Linked DNA regions of Homo sapiens: region 1 is linked to region 2. The links come from fine-mapping of genetic effects on gene expression. A gene starts in region 2. The other region holds a variant in brackets. All regions are shown on one strand. Distances are from middle to middle.

The links. PIP is the estimated chance that this variant, and not a neighbour inherited with it, causes the effect.
Region 1: its variant is fine-mapped to the expression of TUBE1 in monocytes after R848 (Quach 2016, PIP 0.95).

What each region holds. Positions count from the first base shown.
Region 1 is chr6:112,151,661-112,157,049 of GRCh38, forward strand. LAMA4 (laminin subunit alpha 4) reads right to left here. Exons shown (of 39, transcript NM_001105206.3): 15 at 3,905-4,046; 16 at 3,191-3,287. LOC107986633 (a long non-coding RNA gene) reads left to right here. Exons shown (of 2, transcript XR_001744299.2): 2 at 3,660-4,073. Among named protein-coding and RNA genes, the nearest start is that of FAM229B, 67 kb to the left of the region's middle. The variant G/A (reference allele first, on the strand shown) is at 2,781.
Region 2 is chr6:112,085,183-112,090,571 of GRCh38, forward strand. It overlaps TUBE1 (tubulin epsilon 1), which reads right to left and starts at 2,300. Exons shown (of 12, transcript NM_016262.5): 1 at 2,228-2,300; 2 at 2,051-2,124; 3 at 1,374-1,426. The coding sequence starts at 2,252. FAM229B (family with sequence similarity 229 member B) reads left to right here and starts at 2,409. Exons shown (of 4, transcript NM_001033564.3): 1 at 2,409-2,538. RefSeq lists enhancers at 1,830-1,879, 2,014-2,545, 2,280-2,469.

The DNA of each region.
Region 1 (5,389 bases), 66 kb after region 2:
CCAATGTCGTATGTAAAATTAAATCGGATTTTTACACATTGAATTGGTAATGTAGGGTGTCCTTGTATTGTTTCTAATATTAGTGGAAAAGCATTCAATATTTCCATTTTAATTGCTGAATATTATTTTATTTTTCAGATTATGGAAGTTTCCTTCTATTCTCAGTTTGCCGAAAGTCTTTTTTAAAAGTCAAAAATCTTTTTTAAAAGTCAAGTTTGTTAAATAATTTTTCTGCATGTAGTGAGATGATCATATGAATTTCTCCTATATCCTATAAATGTGACAAATTACAATTGATTTTTTAAATGTTAAACTATTCTTGAAATCCTAAAATAAACTCAAATTGGTCATCATATATTGCACTTTATAGGTGTGCTAGATTTGATTTGCTAATATATTGATTAGAATTTTTGCATCTCTTTTTGTGAGAGAATTTGGCTTATAATTTTCCTTTTTAATAATATCCTTATGTGATTCAAGTAACCAAGTTTTGCTGGCTTCATAAAACAAGTTCCAGAGTGCTTTCTTGTTTTCTATTTTCTAGAAGAGCTCGTATAAAAGTGGTGTTATTTCTTCTTTAAATGTTTAAGAATTCACTGGGGCAGCCATCTGAGCCTTGAGATTTCTTTGTGGGTAGGGATCGATTAGTGGTTAAATTTATTATACATATGTATGTACATACAGTTCTATCAGATTTTGTATTTGCATCAGTTTTGAGAGTCTTTTGCTTATAAAATTGTTCTTGAAAGCACACTTGTGGCACAGTCACTAGACTGGTTATCTTTGAGCAAATCCCAACAGATCATGATGTAATTACCTCATCATCTGAACTAAAGGATCAACTTTGCCAGTAATTCTTCATTTCTGTTTGTGCTTTAATTCCAAAGCACTGAGAATTTTGTTTCTTAACAAACAGAAAAATAGTTTTATCACTTCTAATTACACTTTTCTCTTTCTCTCCAATGGGATTGTAAATATACACTCTCTGACGGCACCCCTTTGCTGTTCTATTAGGTAGTCTTGATGTGATTGGTTTAATGTTATCTTTCCCCCCCAGATATGTGTATAATGGGTGGTGGTGTCATGAAGTACAGTTAACCAAATACAAGCACTTCTTTCATATTTTCTCTGGGTAGTGTGAAGAATTTGCATTGCACCCTGCCTCCTTCCTCTTTTCTAATTTCAATTCCCAAACATTATAATACAAACAATGTTTTAGCTCTTATTTTGGGTCTCATGACTGCAAAAACAAAAAAAAATACTACCTGATATACTGAGAAAGAATATATTTAACTCTATATTTGGAGCACTTGATAAAAAGAGGAGGAAGAAAATCAATTTTGGGCTTGATGTTTATAAGAAGAAATGTTTCATAAGAAGTGTGTTCTATTTGGAATTTACTGACTTGCATAAATACTTTTCATTTTGCAAATGAGTTAAGTAGAAGATTCATTTAAATAGCAGCTTCCTGAGATTATATTGACTATCAACTATTTGATATATAATGAAAAGGAAATTTGGGAAATAAAGATTACTGATCATTGAAAGGAATTTGGAATGGAGAAATGTAATCTGAAATTATAATGTAATTCAGTAGATGACTATGGTTTAATTTGAAAACCTGAATGTACATCACAAATGTGTGTATTATCAAAGGAAGACAGTCCTATAAAGTTCTAAGCCACACAGTACTAACTCCCTGTTGTTGTTCCTTTTGCAAATAAATACAGAAAGGGATTTGGCCAAATGAGATCATGAAATAGGTGAACAGGTCTGCAAAATATTCAAACAGGCTAATGCAGAGAGATTTATCAGACATAAAATATGGAACTTTGAAGGGATGTGGGTAGGGATCGATTAATGGTTAAATTTAAAATAGAAAAGTTGCTTTTATGAGGTTCAATAACTCAATAATGACAAGACTGAGAGAATATATTACAAGTTATCAAAAAGAATAAAATATTTAAGTCACTGTGTCATGAAGACTGACACATTCTGATCTTCACAAGAAACAAAAGCAATACATAGATATAGCAACATTTATTTTAAAATATTTTACTGTTAATATTCTAATTCTTCACTACTGATATTCTAATCCATAGAGTATGTTCAGGATAGACTTACATAATAAATTAATTAGACATATAATAATTAGACTAGAGAAACAATGACACTTTTTATTGCCTTTGTTTGCCCAGAAAAATAAAATAACAGTTGTTTTATGGGAAATAAATAAGTATCTGTGTATGAAAAGCAAAGTGCATTTATCTTCTCTGTGTAATGGCTCTTTGCAAAAGATAAAGAAAATGCATGATTAAATGAGATTAATTACTTCAACAAAATTGGGTGAGGTTTTTAGTTTCAAACTTGGCCTTTGTTTTTAGGTGGCAGTTAGAAGTTCGCTAGATGATGAATTTCCAACCTCATTAGTCAATGTTCAAAAATCCTTGGGAATTAGTTCATTATCTCAGAGATGAATAATGTTTAGTGAATTTCTTAGTCCATTCGATTGTTTTTAAGAGTAACTCACAAGATTCAAAATTGTCTAATGCGATTTTGCTTTTATTTTTCCTTCCCTCCCTCACCCTTGGATGTGCACACTTCAGCAGATGCAAACACTGGCCTTTGGAAATGCTTCTTACCATATGCTTGTTAGGTCTGTCCTAAATACAGTAACCTATGTAGAACACAAACTACAAAAAAAAAAAAAAAAAAGAAAAGCAAATAACCAGATGGCTTTGTGGTACCCTGTCATCCTAATTGACTCACAGTGATGACTC[G/A]TTCCTTCATGGGAAACATTTTAAAAGGACTTCGAAATTGTTCAAGAAAGAGGAAATTTTGTGCAATATAGTTTTAGTGTTAAGTGTATTTTAGGACATTTTTCCCCTAAAAATTGGTATTTATGGTAAGTTTCTATTAATCAGCCTATTTGATTAGCAGGAATAGCCACAGTATGTGAGATAGCTATGTGTTTCCATGTAGTTTACTACATAGCATTTTTTTTTTCAATCACAATTTAAAGTATCAAATCTTTGCTCTTTTGTAACTTGACTCTGAGCAGGAACTACTGATATGTTATGTAGTTATAATACTATTCTTTAATCCTAGATTTGGAAATCTCTGTCTACGTGTATGAAAGGAGGGAAGCAGCTATAAATTAGAAAGGAGATAGGAAAGTGAAGATATTTACTAGACTCTGCCTTTGCTTGCAGTTCTCTGGCTTGATTGAGGAGGTTCTCACTTTCATCTTTATGGTAAATGATTTGAGTATCAATCCCACTCACCGCCTACAAAGGAATTGAGAGAAGAGGGTAAAAATGACAGCAGAAGAAATCAGCTATTCATAGTTGAAGGATTTAAATGACACAGTTTATCTGCTAAACACCAAGCAAAATGCATTTAGCTTTATTTTCACAGCTTAAAATTAAGGTCAAATATGTGACCATGAGGAAGTAATGCCTTTGGCATTTTCAAGGTAATGTTTTTTTGGGAAAGATTCAGTGAACCTAGAACAAAGCCCTGGCCAAGGCCCCACCAAAGTGCTTGCCACATAGAAGCCACACAATAAATAATTTTGAGTTGAAAAAAATATAAATGAATGCATAAAGTATCTTCTCTATCAGCAAGAACTAATTTTAAATACATATTTTTTTTTTCAGGGACTTTGGCTAAAAAAATAAACTGTCAAAGGAACTGGCATTTGCTGACTGGACTACAGCACATCTCGAAGAATCTGCAGACTGAAACCTTCAAGGCATTCATGAAATGGTCTTCCCTTAGTTCCCCTGCCTTTTCCACTCTTTCTGCCATTTGGATTTCACACTGGAAGTTCAAGAGATGACATCAGAAAACAGAAAAGCCAGTGGGAAAGGCAAGGTATAAAGAACTTTCAGGGAATACTCACATCATAAATTCGGTCAGTGGTGTTCAAAGCAAATTCTGCTGTTTCATTGGCTTCACTAACATAATTAACAATATTTTCATAGACATTTGATGCATCCAAAGCCTTCTGTACCAGCCCGTTCATATCTGAACTGTGCAACTTCCTGTTAATAAACAAACATTGTTATTTCTCCTTCTTACCTTCTTGGGGAATGGGGCCATGTTTAATGCTTGCTTTTTAAATACTTCTAGGATCACAGATGCTTCCTTCCTGTTATTCAAAGTCACCTAGTGTGGCAAGGTTTTCTTGAGGGTCACACCTCCTCTGCATTCTTCTGTCTTTGCTGAACAGCATTTTGGTTCTCTGACAGCTGCCTGTCTGGCAGTAGCAGCAGGAAAAGGGAATGACGATTTAAAAACAGCCCTCTGCACTTCTTCTTGCAGGAGTTTGTTTATGTGATGGAAGTCAGGCAGAGGAATGAACCATTATGATGACTACCTAGTGCTTATCCAAATCAGCATTGTTATTTCCTTTCTGTAGAGGAAGCCAAGGCTCTAGGAGAGTATGCAGAGCTTGGCCAGGGCACGTATTGTCAAGGTTTGTTTCACTCCTGAGGCCTGGCTGCATCCTGGGCCTCAGGAGTGAGACAGCCCCAGCCCTTCCTCAGCACACAGCCCCACCTCAGCCCACCCTCACCCCTGCCCTTTCACACGATAGTCTCTGCCTTTGCCCCTCTCTGGCCTGTGTAAGGTTCATCCAACATTTACTGAGTACCCATCACACAGGGTACTTGCACACTTGCACACAGGGGCTAATAATGTGAGATATAACAGGAATAAAATATAGAAATGCTTGGTATACCATGCCTGGCATCTGCTAATCGTCAGGGTTTATTATTATACCTACACCATTTCCTGAATTGGGATTTTAAAACTCTATGTGTACCCGCATAATTTATTTTATTGACAAATACTTCTACTGCCTCTGTAATATAAACTCTAACCTCCACTTCCGCAGTTCGTCTAAATCCTTTGTCTTAATTTTATTCAGTCTTAAATCCACCAATTCCTTATTTTTTTTTCTCAGTCCCAAACATCGATGATTAGTATCATCACCTCATTTGTCAGTAACTTCCAGAAGGTCCTCCGTGACCCAGTATATGACATTGCAGATCCCACACTGGCTCCTGTCTTCAAACCGCCTGACCTGTTGAGCTCGGTAATTGTTCCTCAATCTCCAGCATCCAGTTCCAGTCCCTGTGTGCTCCCTTAGAGGGACTTTCTCTATATTTCTTTGGCTACTTCCCTCTCTGTTAACCAAGTCTATAATCATTCTACCCCCTCTACAAAAGGGCTGACTCATCCATTAGGCACAGCGTTTTCATTTTTTTTTCAATCAGAAGGAAAAAATGAGGATAACAATAATAATGGTATTAATCTTTATACCAATGCAGACATGAAATAAAGGTTTTACTTTTTCTATGGAGAAAGGAACCCACCAAGGCAA
Region 2 (5,389 bases):
AAAGGTATAAAAATTTGATAAGAATAGTACACAAAGATATGGTTTTACTTTGAAAAATATTTTTTGTACTAAGCTGTGGAACAGATGCTGCATGTGTTGATAGTACACAGAAAGAAGTGCAAGATGCCACAACCCTGTTTGCCAAACTTACCGGGAAAATAATAGTGCTCTCAGGTTAAAGTATAAAACACACAGAGTAGATGAGAGTGTAGTTATGAAGAGTCACCTTATGAAGAAAGAAAAGCTCCCAGGCTGAGTCTCAACTATGTAATACTCAATGTAAGCGTTGGGTAACAAGAAGTAAAGAGGTGGGTGTAGGAACTTAGCAAGAGAAGCGCCGGAAAGGAAGTATGACAGAAGCAAATTTGAGTCTCCTAAGAGAATTTAGAGGTGAGGATATTGTGGGCTACAAATAAGAGGGAATCTATAGTCTATATGACAGATATCTCCATAAAATAAATATAAATGATACCAGCCATTAAAGTAACTAACTTCCTTTGGTCTGATTCCATGGTCACCAAGCAACCTTCAGATTATTACACAGCTTTTCAGTTAGATTTCCTACAAAAGATAAAGTAATGTGCCTATGAAAATGAGAATTTGGTCTTTGGTTAACCTGGCTGTACTGGAGAGCACTGAACCCATCTCGAGATGCCAATGACACTTCTGAGTTTGCAAGCCAGTGCCCTAGATAGACTCTGGAATTCACCCAGGAAGCGCGGACTAATCAGCTTTCTCTGAAGATAACTGCTCACACACCCAGCCAACTATTTTAAACTAGAACTGATGTTCCTATTGGATTAAAGCCTGACACGAAGTATGTATTTTTCAGTTTAAGCACAGGACAGTTAGTTTTATGAAGTATTTTGAAAATGCATGAACTTAATGATTTAATATTAAAAGCTTATGGAGATATCCTAAACGGCAACTTAAATTACTCTTCCAGATAAAACATATATGGTACTTACATATACTCTTTATTAAATAAACAAAAACAATCCAACAACTGCTTGTCACCTTTTTAAGTATATTTTTATACTTACAGCATATATGTAAACAATATATTTTTCTTTCAAAAGTTAGTTATTACAGGATGCATTAACAAGATGCCCTCTGGGAAAATTTCAGCTTTCTTTTAATGAAACTTATTTCAAGGTTAAGTTAAAAGAAGTCACACTAAAGGGAAATCTGTTGTCTTCTTCGGGAAAATGATATAAGAATATTAATAATCTAATAGAATAAATATGCTTTCAATAATGAAACAAAAAAACACAACTTCGCAGCTGGCTATTTTTATTGTCCTTTGAAGAATTCTCTCCCAAGCTACTGAAACTTAAAGTATCACACTGTGACAGACTTTAATCCCATCTTACCTGGTGTCCACATTTCTAAAGAAGCTGCTTATTGCCTCATCATAAATTCCTTTCTAAAAAGAAAAACATATGTTAATAGCATTTAGGTTTTGCTTCTCGCCCAAATCAAGTTCTTTCAATTTTAATTACATAATACTGTAATGGCTAGGATGAGACTCTGATAAGAAAAACCAAGTATCACAAAATGCGGAGCCTGACTCTTCCCAATCTCCTTAGAAGAGTAAATGCCAGATCTACAGATAAAAAGTTCAGCAGGGGGTGCTAAAGAAAGGATTTCACCCATAGGACTGTAGGACAGGTCCATCAAATGAGCGTTCTCTGGATTCTTCGTAATCTTTTTAAAAGCTGACTGGTTAAATTAAGGAATACAATAACCACACGTGTTATCTATTTTACAAAGTACTTTCCCATATACAAATCTCACTGTTCTGCACACGAACACCAATAAAGAGGAGACCCTGAGAATCAGGAAAAACGTTAAGACTAAGGTCGCTGGCCAGTGTTCTTTTAGTTTAGTGTGTGTCTGACGCAACATGTTTAAAAACCAGTACGTTCTTTACTGGGAAGATCCCATGCATCTTAAACGGGTCAGATGAAAGCTCAAGTCGATTATTTCCTGCGTATGGGCTGGAAGACCTAGCTGACAGGCGAGGGGGCTCGCGGCGGCGGGCGGGTACCTGGTTGACCGCGGCGTGCTCCCTTAGTGCCAGGTCCCAGAAGCAGCAGCCGATCTGGTTTCCGCACTGGCCGACTGCGACCGGAGGAGAGGAAGGAAAGAGAATAGGACATTAAGCAGGAAACATGGCCGCTGGATTCCGCGGCGACCAGGTCTCTACCCGCCCGGCGTAGCTTACCCTGTACGACCACCGACTGGGTCATGGTGGTGCGCCGCCGGCTCCGGGAGCTTGCTAGCCCGCGGCCGCTTCTGCATTCCCCCAGCAACGGCGCTCTGCTAGAGAGCTGCCGTAAGTCACGCTACTGCCGCAAGCCTCTGCCGTCGCTAAGCACGTCTGTAGGTTCAGGCTAAGGTTTTCCGTCAGAAGGCCGCGCAAGTGCACTTGCGTGTCACCGTTACCGTAGCGACTGGGCTTCTGGACTGTATATCCTAGCTGCCTTGTCAACATCTTCGAGCATCGGCAGCTCCGGAGGCCGGGGTAACTGGCAGGTAACTAGGCTTTGGAGTGGTATTTTAAAATATGTGTCGTTAAGCTGTTCGTGGGCTATCAGAGGTTTAATTTTTGTTCACAGCCTCAACACCCGGGGCGGTGGATCAGTCCGTTTATTCAGATTCCACGGGACGCTGCGTTGGCATCTCTGTTCAACAAGCCCTTTATTCTAATAGAAAATGAACAATGGCGTTGAGCAAAGAGAAACCCCAGAGAAATAGTCATGTCAGGGCACAATTGAAACTAGATGGTTATACGCTTTGACAAAAATGGCAAAGCTAAGGTCACAGACCCAACCAGTATTTGTTGAACGCTGTATACTCCCCAAATTAACTTGTAGGCTCGCTGGGAAGATTAGAAAGAAATTAAGGCATAGATCCAGTTCCAAGAAGCTTACAATCTAATTGAAGACATACACGCGAAATACTTAAAGAATTGTGTGGCGTTGACTATAAGTGCAATAGGATTCAGTGGTTGAGGATGTAGATGAGTATGTAGAAGTCTGATAGAAGACACGAGATTAACACTAGGCATTTAGATGGGTATTTAGATGGGATAGGCAGGAGAAGATTAAAAAGTTAGGCATTATGACAATTACCAACTACTTAAAATTGTCAAACATTAAAATATGTAAACTTCTATTGATCAAATTAGACCAGATTTTAATTAAGAACTCAAGTACTTCTTTAATGAAATTAATATTTTCCACAAAAATTCTGAAGAACTACGAAACTCTAAGAAGTCTTCTTTGTTTAATAAAAAGTTATATGGTATGTGCTATGAATATGTGCTAATATGAACTGTAATATTCAATGGATTAGAACACTTTATTGTCCCACCAAGACACGTAGTAGTTACTATTAAATTTCTCTGGTAGCCGGTAGGTTTAAAGTTGCAATGGATTTTATATCTTTTGGTAATAGGCAGCTTTCGGTCAGTAAATTTTTGTAGGCTGGATTTATTCTTAACTTCTTACTGAGTATGGGGTCAGTGGTAGAGGTAAAGTTGGGCATTTTAGGTCTTGATGCTAAAGTCCCAACGTCTGGGGCTTCCAAAATTTGCAAGTCTTGGTCCAGTTTGTAGGCAGTGATGTGAATAGGTCTGTATCAGTGTGTTATCAGTGCTAGGTGAGATGATACACTGGCCTTTGCAGAGCCCTACCCTTCATGCAGTCCCAGTCATTATTCCCCACACAGGAAAGAAAAGTCCTAACACATCTTATTAATAACTTCAGTCTCTAGAGAATCAGACTGAGAGACAGTTCTGCTTAAGAGCCAAGCAAGGTAGAGCCTCACATGCCAGCCACTCCAAAACTTCCGTATATGCAAACCCGGGTGAGCCAAGTTGAGATCGGTTGAACCGCAGCGGGCTATTCAGAATATTATAAGCAAGAGAAATGTTTTTGGTTGAAATTACTGAAATTTTGGGGTGCAGTTTTATTGTAGTGATAGCTGACCAACATACAGAGCAAATAGAGTGAACAGAATTCCACATGCTGAAAATGAAAAAGAAAAAAATTATTGGGAATCCTATGGACTCCTAAAATTGAAGGAAGGAAGACAAGGATGGAAGGGAGAGAGGGAGGGAAGGGGGAGAGGAAGGAAGGAACGATGTAAAAGATGGATAAAGTACAAGACCTTGGGGTAAAACCTAGCCTAAGAGGGGAGAAAAGAAAATTCATCATATCTACTTTGTGCTGAAGAAGAACTTAAGAATATGAATGCAATAAAACAGGAACTTAAAGACAAGATACTAAAATAATAAGACTCAAGCTCTATGAGGGCTGAGTCTTGTTGTTTTATCCACTACTAGGGATAGTACCTTGCATATAGTAGATAGTAAATAAATATTTGATGAATAAATGAAATAAAATGGAGATAAAAGAACTAAGGAAATTAACTGAAGACAACAACATCCACCTTAAAGGACTTAAAGAAATAATTTTTAAAAGCATTTAAGAAGCAGACTAGAGAGATGCACATCAAATTATAATGTAGAGGAAAGTCTTAAAATAATAACAATACTAGGCAAAACCCAGAGATATGAAAGTTATTAAAAATAATATGTATGAAGGAGACAAAGATGGCTCAACATAAGATTAACATGTGCCCACAGCAAATGGAGGAAAAAATGTACTTGATAAAAAAAAAGGAAGAAAAATACATAGATTAAAAGGATACACACTATGTTCTATAGGACAATTTATAGAAAAATCAACACCAAGACATGCAGCCTCATTAAGGCATTCAACTTTTCAGAATAAAGAGAGAATTTTTTAGGTACCTAGGCATGAAATGAACGGGGGAGTGGGATGAAGAAAAAACAATTAATTAGAGTACTTTAGACTCATCTATATAGCACATTCAGTACTGGAAGGCATTGAAAACATGCTGCAAAGTTCTGAAGGGGAATAAAATGTTTTAGAAGAAAATTATTCTGTAGCTTTTGTAAGTTGTCATTAAAATATAATTCAGAGTTGTGGGTGGTCTGTTTTTATTCTTGCTTGCACACCGCCATTTCTGAGCTCATCTCTTTCTCATATAACTTGACAAACAGTAGCAACTGACATGTTATTGTTTTCCAGCCTCTTCTCCCAACATTTAAATTCATTAGTTAAATCACATGCCTTCTAGGTTATCACAGAGTTTTCCAAAGATTTTTCCCAATAGGTTTGTTCCTGGGTGACATAGATCACTATCCTTTTAGCTTTCCACAACAGTTTCCTTGTTAATTGCTGCTTGACCACTTAGGTATGGTGACTTATATTTTAGATTTTTGTTATAGCGGTACCTAAGTCTGGACCAAAGTCTGTATACATCAGCATAAACTTTGTTGTGCTGTGGTAACAAT